Regions from separate parts of the Homo sapiens genome. Here region 2 is linked to region 1. The links come from fine-mapping of genetic effects on gene expression. Tissue or cell type: whole blood. Region 1 holds a variant in brackets; the other region holds the start of a gene. All regions are shown on one strand. Distances are from middle to middle.

What was found. PIP is the estimated chance that this variant, and not a neighbour inherited with it, causes the effect.
Region 2: it holds the start of ZNF335, and the variant in region 1 is fine-mapped to the expression of ZNF335 in whole blood (TOPMed, PIP above 0.99).

What each region holds. Positions count from the first base shown.
Region 1 is chr20:46,035,483-46,041,254 of GRCh38, reverse strand. SLC12A5 (solute carrier family 12 member 5) reads right to left here. Exons shown (of 26, transcript NM_020708.5): 3 at 5,720-5,772; 4 at 5,332-5,478; 5 at 4,460-4,514; 6 at 3,870-4,000; 7 at 641-882. Among named protein-coding and RNA genes, the nearest start is that of SLC12A5, 9.2 kb to the right of the region's middle. RefSeq lists silencers at 68-268, 51-345. The variant A/G (reference allele first, on the strand shown) is at 3,409.
Region 2 is chr20:45,970,085-45,975,084 of GRCh38, reverse strand. ZNF335 (zinc finger protein 335) reads left to right here and starts at 2,882. Exons shown (of 28, transcript NM_022095.4): 1 at 2,882-2,963; 2 at 3,625-3,875. The coding sequence starts at 3,675. RefSeq lists an enhancer at 2,261-2,480 and a silencer at 3,251-3,370.

The sequences.
Region 1 (5,772 bases):
GACCTTTTAAACACACGGACGCCAGGTCCCCATATCCAGAGTTCCTCGTTTAATTTAAATGAAGCCTGGCCATTGGCTTTTTTTTTTTTTTCTTAAGCTCCCCAAGTGATTCTAATAAGCAGCCAAGGTGGAGAAGCACCGCATTAGTGCAATGCTGTGTTTCAGCACCGTGGACAGCGGTCTCGGGGGCCGCCCTCCACCTCTGAGCAGTGGATGGAGTGGACTTGGATCTGAGTCCCTGGACCCTGTAGACTTCTGTGTCTTTTCCCATCCTGGAGGAGTTGTCCAACACTAGGAGATTGTCCCATTCCAGGAGGTTGTCCCCACCCAGGAAAGGTTTCCCTACCACAGACAGCATTCATTGCTTTGGAACTCATTCCCACTTAATTCTTCCTAAGTCCACCCTACCAGCAAGAAGTTGACTCTTACAAGGTAAATTGTTCCCTCCTCCAGAAAAGTTACCTCACTCTGAAGAGATTGCCCCCAAACTAAGAGAGATTTTCCCTCCCAAGGGAAGCTACTCCCAACCCACACCACTCTGAGATTCTGAGGGGCAGGGAGGGGGAGTTTGGCAGAGACTCTGAAACAGGGCCAGGGAGGTAGGAGGACGATTCCTTGGGCTCAGAGCAGCAGCACTCACGGGAAGTTGGGTGGGTCGAAGGCAGACTTGATGACCCCAGCATAGATGGCCAGGATGGAGAGGATGACACAACCCAGGAAGACAAGGGCAAACTTGTTGACATACTTGACACCCACAAACACCACAGTGGCCATGCAGGTGAGCACACAGGTGCCGTAAACACGCATGTTGTTCAGCATGGCTGCTGCCTCCCCACTGGCATCTTCTGCCTTGAAGATGGCCATGGCTGGGAAGAGGTAAGCCTGTGGGAAAGGGGCAGGAAGAACAGATACCTAAGTCAGCAGCCCTTTGCACTACATGCAGCGCTTTAGGAAAAAAGATGCTCATCACAGCACAGTCACAGTGGTACCAGACTGGAAAAGACATCCAGTAATAGGAGAATCGCTAAAGAAGGCATGGCCTGTCCTGCAAGGACTATGATGCAGCCATTTAAAAATGACATTATAAGGCCAGGCATGGTGGCTCACACCTGTGATCCCAGTGTTTTGAGAGGCCAAGGTGGGAGGATCACTTGAAGCCAGGATTTCAATACCAGCCTAGGCAACATAATGTGACCCCATCTCAAAAACAAATAAAAATACATTTTTTAAAAAATGACATTGCAAGGATGCTGGAAGCAATTACTTCTGTTATTTTTGTTAATTATAATTCTTAATAATTATTTATCATTTTAATAATTTCTAATAGAAAGGTGGAAATAAATGTTCATCACTCGAGGTTGGGTGAATAAATCATGATATCCCCACAGACTATGGAGCTATTAAAAAAGATGATGTAGTTGGTTTTTTATTGTTGTTGTTGGTTTTTTATTGTGGTGGTGGTTTTTTTGTTTTTTTTTTGAAATAAAGTTTTGTTCTTGTTGCCCAGGCTGGAGTGCAGTGGCACGATCTTGGCTCACTGCAACCTCCACCTCCTGGGTTCAAGTGATTCTCCTGCCTCAGCCTCCCGAGTAGCTGGGATTAGAGGTGCCCACCACCACCCCTGGCTAATTTTTGTATTTTTAGTAGAGACGGGGTTTCACCGTATCAGTCAGGCTGGTCTCGAACTCCTGACCTCAGGTGATCCAACTGCCTCGGCCTCCCAAAGTTCTGGGATTACAGGCATGAGCCACTGTGCCCGGCCAGATGACATAGATTTATATGGACTGACTTTAAAAGCTATCCATGGTACATTAGGTGAACACAATCAGGTTTTTGAAAAAGAATATGTCTCATTATCTCATTTTTATAAATGTGTATGTGAAGATATATACGTATATTAGTATACGTCTGTATGTGTTTTCATAAGTACATCAAAATGTTGTCAGTAGTTTTCCCTGAATCGTAAAAAATGTGGATAATCTATTCTTTATGCACATCTGTATTTTCTAAAATTCCCATGCTAAATATTAACGTTTACATTCTTCCAAGAGTTATTTTCACTGCAAATAATATATACAAAGAGAATATGAGTTGCTTAGGTATAGGGTTATATTTTACATAGACAGAATACAATACCACATAGAAAAACAAAAACTAGAAGGCAATACACCAAAATGTTAATGGTTATTTTCTTTGGGTGACTTATTTCCTTCTTTACATTTTTTCATGACTTGGATATTCCCCCAATTTTCTGCAATGGGCAGAATTGCATTTACAACAATTTTCAAATATTTTAATTTTTAGAAGTCATGGAGGTCTATTCTCCCTCATCATTTGCCTCCTCAGGCCTTTCATGCCCCATCCATCCTCCCTGTCCTACCCTCTTCCATCCTGCCGTGACACTAATTGCTGTGACACCTTCTAGTTCTAGGTTTCCAAGGCAGTGTGGTATAGAGGACACGTAAATGTATCAAGAAGTAGGCGTTTGGTGAATATTTGATTTTTTAGAGAGAATGGGAAGAATTCAGTTACAATGCTGTTTGTGACATGTAATCTCATTTTTTGTGAGTCTGGACCTACCATATGTTAACTATTGTAAGATTATAGGTGAATTTTATTTTCTTCTCTACCCTTATCATTTTCATCAATGAAGCTGCATCACTTGTGTAAGGCTCTGGAAGTCAGAAAGACCAAGGTTCATATTCCTTCCATTCGTTCCTTAAACTCTGAGCCTTGCTTTCCTCATCTGTAAAATGGCCACCTTTTAGCCAGGTGCAGTGGCTCACGCCTGTCATCCCAACACTTTGGGAGGCTGAGGTGGGAGGATCATTTTAAACTCAGGAGTTTGAGACCAGCCTGAGCAACATAGTGAGACCCCTATCTACAAAAAAATACAAAAATTAGCTGGGCATGGTGGTGCTTACCAGCTACTTGGGAGGCTGAACTGGTGGGGGGGATCATTTGAACCTGGGAAGTCGAGGCTGTCAGTGACTGCACCACTGCCCTCCAGCCTGGGCAACAGAGTGAGACTCTGTCTCAAAAGAAATAAAAAATAAAATAAAATAAAATGGCCACCTTTAACTCATGAGAGAGTCATGACGATAAAATAAAATGATATACTTCAAGCCTTGGGGCCTGCACAGAGTAGGGGCTTGGGACATGTCAGCTCTACTTCCTATCCACCAGGGACACCTCTTCAGCACCCATGCCCTACAGGAAGGGGATGAAGGATGGAGACCTAAGTCACCAGTCCTGACTTCAAGCACTGCCCAGCAACCTGGTTTCTCTCCATCAGTCACTATTCCCAACAGATGTCTTTATACGGATCCCTCCCCTGGTTCTTCTCTTTTGCAATCCAATAGCCACCAGCCATCTACCATTAACATCATAGAGTACCTAGCACAGTCC[A/G]TGCCCCTTGGGAGGCAATCACACAATGGTAGCTGCTGCATAACATTACTGTTTTTATTTCTACCATATTTTAACTCATCAACCCACCTCTGCCGCCTATCTGAGAGCTGAGTGACCTTGAGGAAGTTATCTCACCTCTCTGAGCTTCTCATTTGTAAAATGGGCATCATAATACTTAAACCTCGTAAGGATACAAGAGAATGGCTGGAAAGCACTTGGAAGGATGCTGAGAGCTCAGTGGGGGCCTGATAAACGACAGCTGTGTATGTTACATAATTATTGTATCTTGTCTCCCCAACTAGACTGTGAACTCTTTAGAAACAGAACCACATCTGACTTTGGCCTTACTGAACCACATTTTTGGCCTCACTGAATGGCCTGGCCTATAGGAGGTGTCCAGGGAGCACTGATTAACTGACTGACAACCTGGGGTTCCACACCTCCTCCTCAGCCTCTCTTACCAGCAGGATTTCGATGGTGCCCAGGATGTACATGGCTCCTGCAAAGGTAGTGCCCAGGTAGAAGCAGAGGCCCACGGCACCCCCAAACTCTGGGCCCAGAGACCTGGAAATCATGTAGTAGGAGCCACCAGCTGCAGGGAGAATCTGGTATCAGCGAGAGGGTCGGGGGCACTGGGCTGCCGTAAGGGGTGAGGGGTGTTCAGTGACAGAGGCAGAAGGGGGTTGCTCCAGGCCTCACAGGCTTATGGGCTGCAGCCCTAGAAAGGGGACTGGTGAGAGACCCAAGCAACCACTCTGCATGGATTTTGCAGCACTAATTACCATGTTGCTAATTACCCCTTTAAGGAGGTCATGGCTCAGAAAATTGGATGGTGGAGAGGAGGGTCTCAGGATGAGTTGGGGGAGGGCTGCCCTATTCAACACCGAGAGCTGCCTCCTCCTCTGCCCCCAATAGGGCTGAAAACAGATACAGCCCAGCCCCCTAGTCTAGAATATTATCTCTCTTGGGCCTTGATGTCCCCCAAAGCCCAGGGCACTATCCCTCCTTCCACCCAGCCATCCTCCCTCCCCACAAAGCCCCAGTCACCTACCAGGCACAACACCATTCGTTGCAATTGCACTCATGGAGATGGCCGTGAGCATCGTCTGTGAGGAAAGAGATCATCAGAGCGGTGGCTGGGGTAGGGGCCGCAGTGGCCTGGGTGGGGGCCAAGCCTTATACCCCATAAACACCAGCCAAACCCACAGGTTCTCTTCTGCTGAGCTGCTCCCTGGACCTGTTCCAACTTCTACTCCTGCCAAGTCCTTCTTCTCAAGAAAACCTTATTCACCATGCGAACGGAAGGAGCCCAAGCAAGCCACAGCATCAGAGAGCTCTGGAAATCCCAGCCTGGTCTCAGACCAGCTGCCTGACCTGAGACAACTCACTTCACTTCTCCAAGCCTCAGTTTCTCCATCTATAGAATAGGAGTAACAGCTCCGACACTGCGTACCTCACATGCAGAGCTGTCTCAAGGTTATGTACGAGGACATGTAAATATATCAAGAAGTAGGTGTTTGGCGAATATTTGATTTTTTTAGAGAGAATGGGAAGAATTTGGTTACAATGCTGTTTGTGACATGTAATCTCATTTTTGTGAGTCTGGACCTGCCAAAATGTTAACTATTGTAAGATTATAGGTGAATTTTATTTTCTTCCCTACCCTTATCATTTCCATCAATGAGCTGCATCACTTGTGTAATTACACACAGAGAGATCCAGGTGAAACCTGGTTAACAGCCATCAAGGACAAGCCTGTGAGATGCAGGAAGGACCAGTCAGGCCTAATTTACTCTCAAAGATCATAAGCAGTGGTTCCTATAAAAAGCTCAGGTCTCATGCTTCCATCCTCCCACCTCCCACCCCCAGGCCTCTGCCAAGCCCCAGCTGTCAGGGGGTGGTGAGGGGAGGGGTGTCACTCACACAGGAGCAGCAGATGAACACCATGCAGAAGGACTCCATGATGCCTGCAATGCCCACCACCCAGGTGAGCCGCAGGAAGAGGATGACGCCAAAGATGTTCTGCAGGCACGGCAGGTACACGCCCATGAAGGTGCCCATGCGTGGGGCCTGCCAGGGAGGCCAGCATCAGTCTCTGCAGTCCTCATCATTACGAACACCCCAGGTGTGCTCCTCCTCCATGTTTCTCTGCCCCCACCTTCCTCTTCTCTCTATTCTCAACCCTTCATCCCTCTTCTTTCTGATTTGTATCCCCTTTCCCTCCCTCCATTCAAATCCATTTTCCTCCCCCATCCTCCCCCACCCCCCATCCGTCCCTTTTCTTCCATTTCTCATCCCCCGAGGTCCTCACCTGCACCGGCTTCTTTTTTCCACCCTCATTGTTTTCTGCCTCTTCATGCTCCC
Region 2 (5,000 bases), 66 kb after region 1:
TCAGAAAGCACACACACTGCCTGGCATCTTCCCTCCTCTTTCCCTCTTGGCTCTTCTACATTTTTCTCAATGGTCCACTTTAATGTCCTCTGACCCAGAGCCCCTTCACTGCTTCCATAAGTCTCTCTAAGCTGGGGCCATGGAGTTCGAGACCAGCCTGGGCAAAATAGCTAGTCCCCATCTTTATAAACAATTTTTTAAAAGATAAAACAAATTTTAAAGAGAAAACAAAAAAATAAAGCTGAGACCAGAACTAGACTGCACTCTCTGGAGGAACAAACCCTGGATTCACAGGCAGAATACAAGGATTTGCCTGCTTGTCTTTGTGATGGAAGGGTTCTGGTATGTTGTTTCCAAGGAGCCGAGACCTTGGGCTGTTAGCTTTCCCCCTCTGGGCCTTGGGCTCCTCTTCGGTTTCATGATGAGTCTGTTTCATCTGTACCATGACATTCTGCAATCTTGTGATGCTGTGGCAAAGGCCAGGATTAAGGTTGAGTCTTTTTTTTTTCTTTTTAATAGACAGGGTCTCACTCTCTCACCAAAGCCAGAGTGCAGTGGCGCACTCATAGTTCACTGCAGACTCTACCTCCTAGGAGGCTTCAGTCTTAGTGGGGAAGGGAATGAGGGTACTGTGGGGCTACTTCGGAGTACCCCAAACTTGGGAGAGGTGACTTGGTCAGATGTAGGATGCACCCTACTACCCTACTGGCATGAGGGGGCAGATGCTTCTGTAGGGCTGAGGAATGGGGTCCACACGGGAAAACTGCCTGGAGATAGTAAAACCAACATGTCATCATGCCAGTGCTGACCTAGCTCTTCAGAGCTGCTCTGGGGCCTGGTCCTGCTGGTTGCAAGGGATAGGGGATGAGGGTCCTAACCTATCCAGAGGCCTCCTGTTCCATTCCCTCAACCCAAAAGGGAAACCTAGGAAAGAAAACTTTACCTAAGAAAAGGACCAGATGAATCCCCTCATACACAAGTGCACACAAATAACAGCTCAAAGCACCCTTTGTCCTTTTTATTTTTATTTATTTATTTATTTTTTGAAGCGGAGTTTCTCTCTTGTCGCAATGGCACAATCTCGGCAACCTCCGCCTCTGGGCTTCAAGCGATTCTCCTGCCTCAGCCTCTCGAGTAGCTGGGACTACAGGCGCGCGCCACCACACCCAGTGAAATTTTGTATTTTTAGTAGAGACAGTTTCACCATGTTGGCCAGGCTGGTCTCGAACTCCTGACCTCAAGTGATCCACCGGCCTCAGCCTCCCAAAGTGCTGGTTATTACAGGTGTGACCCACCGAGCCCGGACCTTTTCTCCTTATTAATAGGTCTTCTCCTTAGGACTTTTTGTTTGTTTGTTTGAGACAAGAGTTTCCGCTGTTGTTCCCCAGGCTGGAAGGCAATGGCGTGATCTCGGCTCACCGCAACCTCTGCCTCCCGGGTTCAAGCTATTGTCCTGGCTCAGCCTCCTGAATAGCTGGGATTACGGCATGCGCCACCACGCCCAGCTGCTTTTGTATTTTTCGTACAGATGGGGTTTCTCCATGTTGATCAGGCTGGTCTCAAACTCCCAACCTCAGGTGATCCGCCCGACTCAGCTTCCCAAAGTGCTGAGATTACAGGCGTGAGCCACCGCGCCCAGCCTGCTTAGGAGTTTTTTTGAGATTTTTTTCCCCCAAAATTTGTATCTTTCAATTAAGGAAAATAGCCTATGGAACTACAGAGACTTAGGGACAAAAACCAGAGCGCCTTACTCCCTCTTGTGCTCTTCCACTGCAAACTGCTAAAAGTCTTAAAACAGAAGGTGACATTTCCGGAGGAAGGACATACCTTAAGGGCAGCTGACTTTTAATTAAAATTTTTTTTCTTTCTCCACTTTTAAAGGATAGGTAGTTGACTTGTATTTATTTATTTTTTGAAAGAGGGTCTCGCTCTGTCGCCCAGGCTGAAGTGCAGTGGTGTGATCACGGTTCGCTGCAGCCTCAACCTCCCAGACTCAAGCGATCCTCCCACCTCAGCCTCCCGAGCAACTGGGATTATAGGCACGCGCCACCATGCCTGGCTAATTTTTCTTTTTTTTCTTTTTTTTGTAGAGATGGGGTCTCGCTCTTTTGCCCAGGCTGGTTTGGAACTCCTGGGATCAAGCGATTCTCCTGCCTTGGCGTCCCAAAGTGTTGGAATTACAGGCGTGACTCACAGCGCCCGGCCTCAGCTCTATTAATGTTAACAAATATGTATACAAACCTAAGGGACAAGCATTAACTTCTTTCCATTTCCCCGACTCCTGCCATCCGTACTTAGCTCCTGAGTCCCTTTATTGGATGTGATTTTGGACCAGCCCTTCCCATACCCAGACCTCAGTTTCCCTATCTGTACAATAATTATACATTCCCTTCCCAACAAAACACATCAAACCTAACGGGCAGAGCTCGATTGGGTTGCAGCAGCGCGCTAAGTAATAAGTAATGAGTCAGGTAAAATGACTGACAACATGAATTCCTCTTTGGCCAAGCCAAAGTCGCCCGCGGCCACACGCTCTTCCGGGCTGTTGTAGGAGGGGCGCGGCCAAGCCACCGGGAGCCACGCCCCCCACTGGGAGCCACGCCCCAAGAGAGCGGGGCGCGCATTCGCCGCGCCCAACCCTGCGGCCTAGGGAAGGGACCAGAATGACGTCACAACCACTTCCTACGTAACACTCCGCCGAGATAAAGTAGTCCCCAAACCATAGTGGGCTCAGTGCCAAACACCGGGCGACGTATAAAGTCCCAGAGTCTGTTGAGACCCGATTATGGTTTTGAGGCCTCGGAGCGACCTTCCGGAACACTGAAAATGTGTCTTTCCCGGGGCCAGCGGGGGAAGTAGTTCCGGCCTACAATAGGCCGATGGGTTCCTCCGCAGCGGAGGAAAGAGGATGGCGACCTCGTCGATGCCGGAGTCAGAGAGGAACGTGGCTACGAAAGCCTCGGGTGAGCTTCGGGTAGAGTTAGGCGGCCCCACCGTACCCTGCCGTGGAGTGAGGTCACACTGCGGGGATACCCGGAGGCGAGGTCCCAGGCCGGCGGGGCTGTCCGAACAGGGCCCCGGGGTCCCAGGCCCTTTAGTCGCTCTCGCACTTGCCTGAGCGGAAACCCGGCGCCACCACAAGATGGCGTCGGGCCTGGAGCACAGGCAGCGCCGGGGACAGCCCCAAATCGCCAGGCCCCGAGACCGTCGCTGTCAGCCGCCTCCGCAGGGGAACCGGGGGGGAGCGAACCACTGACCCAGGGGGCCAGCGGGCTGTACCACCGGCCCTGCAACCCGGGGGGACGCGGGGGCCGAAGGGCTGAACCACTGGGCCCGGATGGGGCTCACAGAGCGGAACGCTCCACGAGAATCGTGGGGGCGAGGGAAAGGGTCAAGATTACCAGCCATTGACCACCCTCCCGGGAAGGGCCTTAGCCTGGGAAGCACAGCTTCTCCGTCAAGTTTTTCCCGAGCTCCCCTCGCAATACACCAGGAAGCTCCGCCCCGTCGGAGACTCAATCTTCGCATCTGCAAAATGGGCGCAGGGGTGCAAATGGGTGGCCGTGGTTGCCGGGGCTGGGGAGATGGCCCACTTGTTCCAGCCACGGTCACCTCTCTTCTCAGAGTGAAGTTCCCAGACCCTACGCCCCGCTGTCAGGCAGCCCGCCGATCAGATGGAGGAGAACGAGGTGGAGAGCAGCAGCGACGCGGCCCCTGGGCCTGGCCGGCCCGAGGAGCCCTCTGAGAGCGGCCTGGGTGTGGGCACCTCAGAAGCCGTGTCCGCCGACAGCAGCGACGCCGCGGCCGCCCCGGGGCAGGCAGAGGCCGATGACTCTGGCGTGGGGCAAAGCTCGGACCGCGGCAGCCGTTCTCAGGTATGGACCCGGCTGGACGGCGTGGGTGGAGGCAAGGACCGCGAGCAGCAGTGCCTGACAGCCAAGAGGAAACAAGGCTTGTTTGTAGCTAATACTTGGTGTTTCTGGTTTACTGTGAGCCAGGCACCAAGCCAAACCCCTAAAATGGATTTTCTCATTTGAGCTTCATACCTTCTAAGACACATACCATTTTTTCCCACATCTTATAGAAAAGGATGCCGAGGTACAGAGTGCAGACAGAGCCAGGATTCAAATCTAGGCTGTGGTCTTAGCTACTATACTACCCACAGTCCTCACACTTTGAGAGGCAGATGTCTAGGCCAGGAGTGGTAGCTCATCGCCTGTAATCCCAGCACTTTGGAAGGCTGAGGTGGGAGGATCACTTGAGCCCAGGAGTTGGAGACCAGCTTGGGCAAATAGCGAGACCTCATCTCTACAAAAAAAAAAAAAAAAACGCAAGTGCCCTGGGTTAAGACTGGGTCCTGCCTCCAGTTTACTGGGAGACCTCTTTGAGCCTCAGTATCCCGGCTAAAGTAAAGCAGAAATACTTGCTTTCAAGGGTGCTTGATTGTGAGCTCCCACCAGACATCCTCTTGCAAACATTTTGTAAACCATCTCCTCCTGGCTGTGCCACTTCCTAGCCGTGTGATCTTGAGCAAGCTACCCAACATCTAGCTCTGTTTCCTCGTCTGTAAAGTGGGAATGGTAAATATACCTGCCTCATAGAGTTTTTGTGAGGATGAAATGAATTAACATATGCAAAGCTAATAATTAAAACAGTGCTCAGCACATTGTAAGCACTCAGTAAGTATTAGCCATTCTTATATGCAAGATAATGGTCATATTCAGTATATCACGTGATAGAAGTACACAGCAGTGGTCATCACTTTGGGGTCCTGGGGTTTCATTAGTTCAGCAGAGATGGGGGCCTACCATGTGCTCAGCGTGTGCTGGGCCCTGGAAATACAGCAGAGGAAAAGACAAGTTTGGTCCAGGCCCTTGTGGAGGGCACAGTCTGGCATGGAGGCTGTTAAAAGGCACAATGAACCCCACAGTGGTGTGGTGCTGGGGACACAGGCAGCTGCAGCACTGAGGATGAAGAAGTCCTGACTTGGCCTCAAAGCC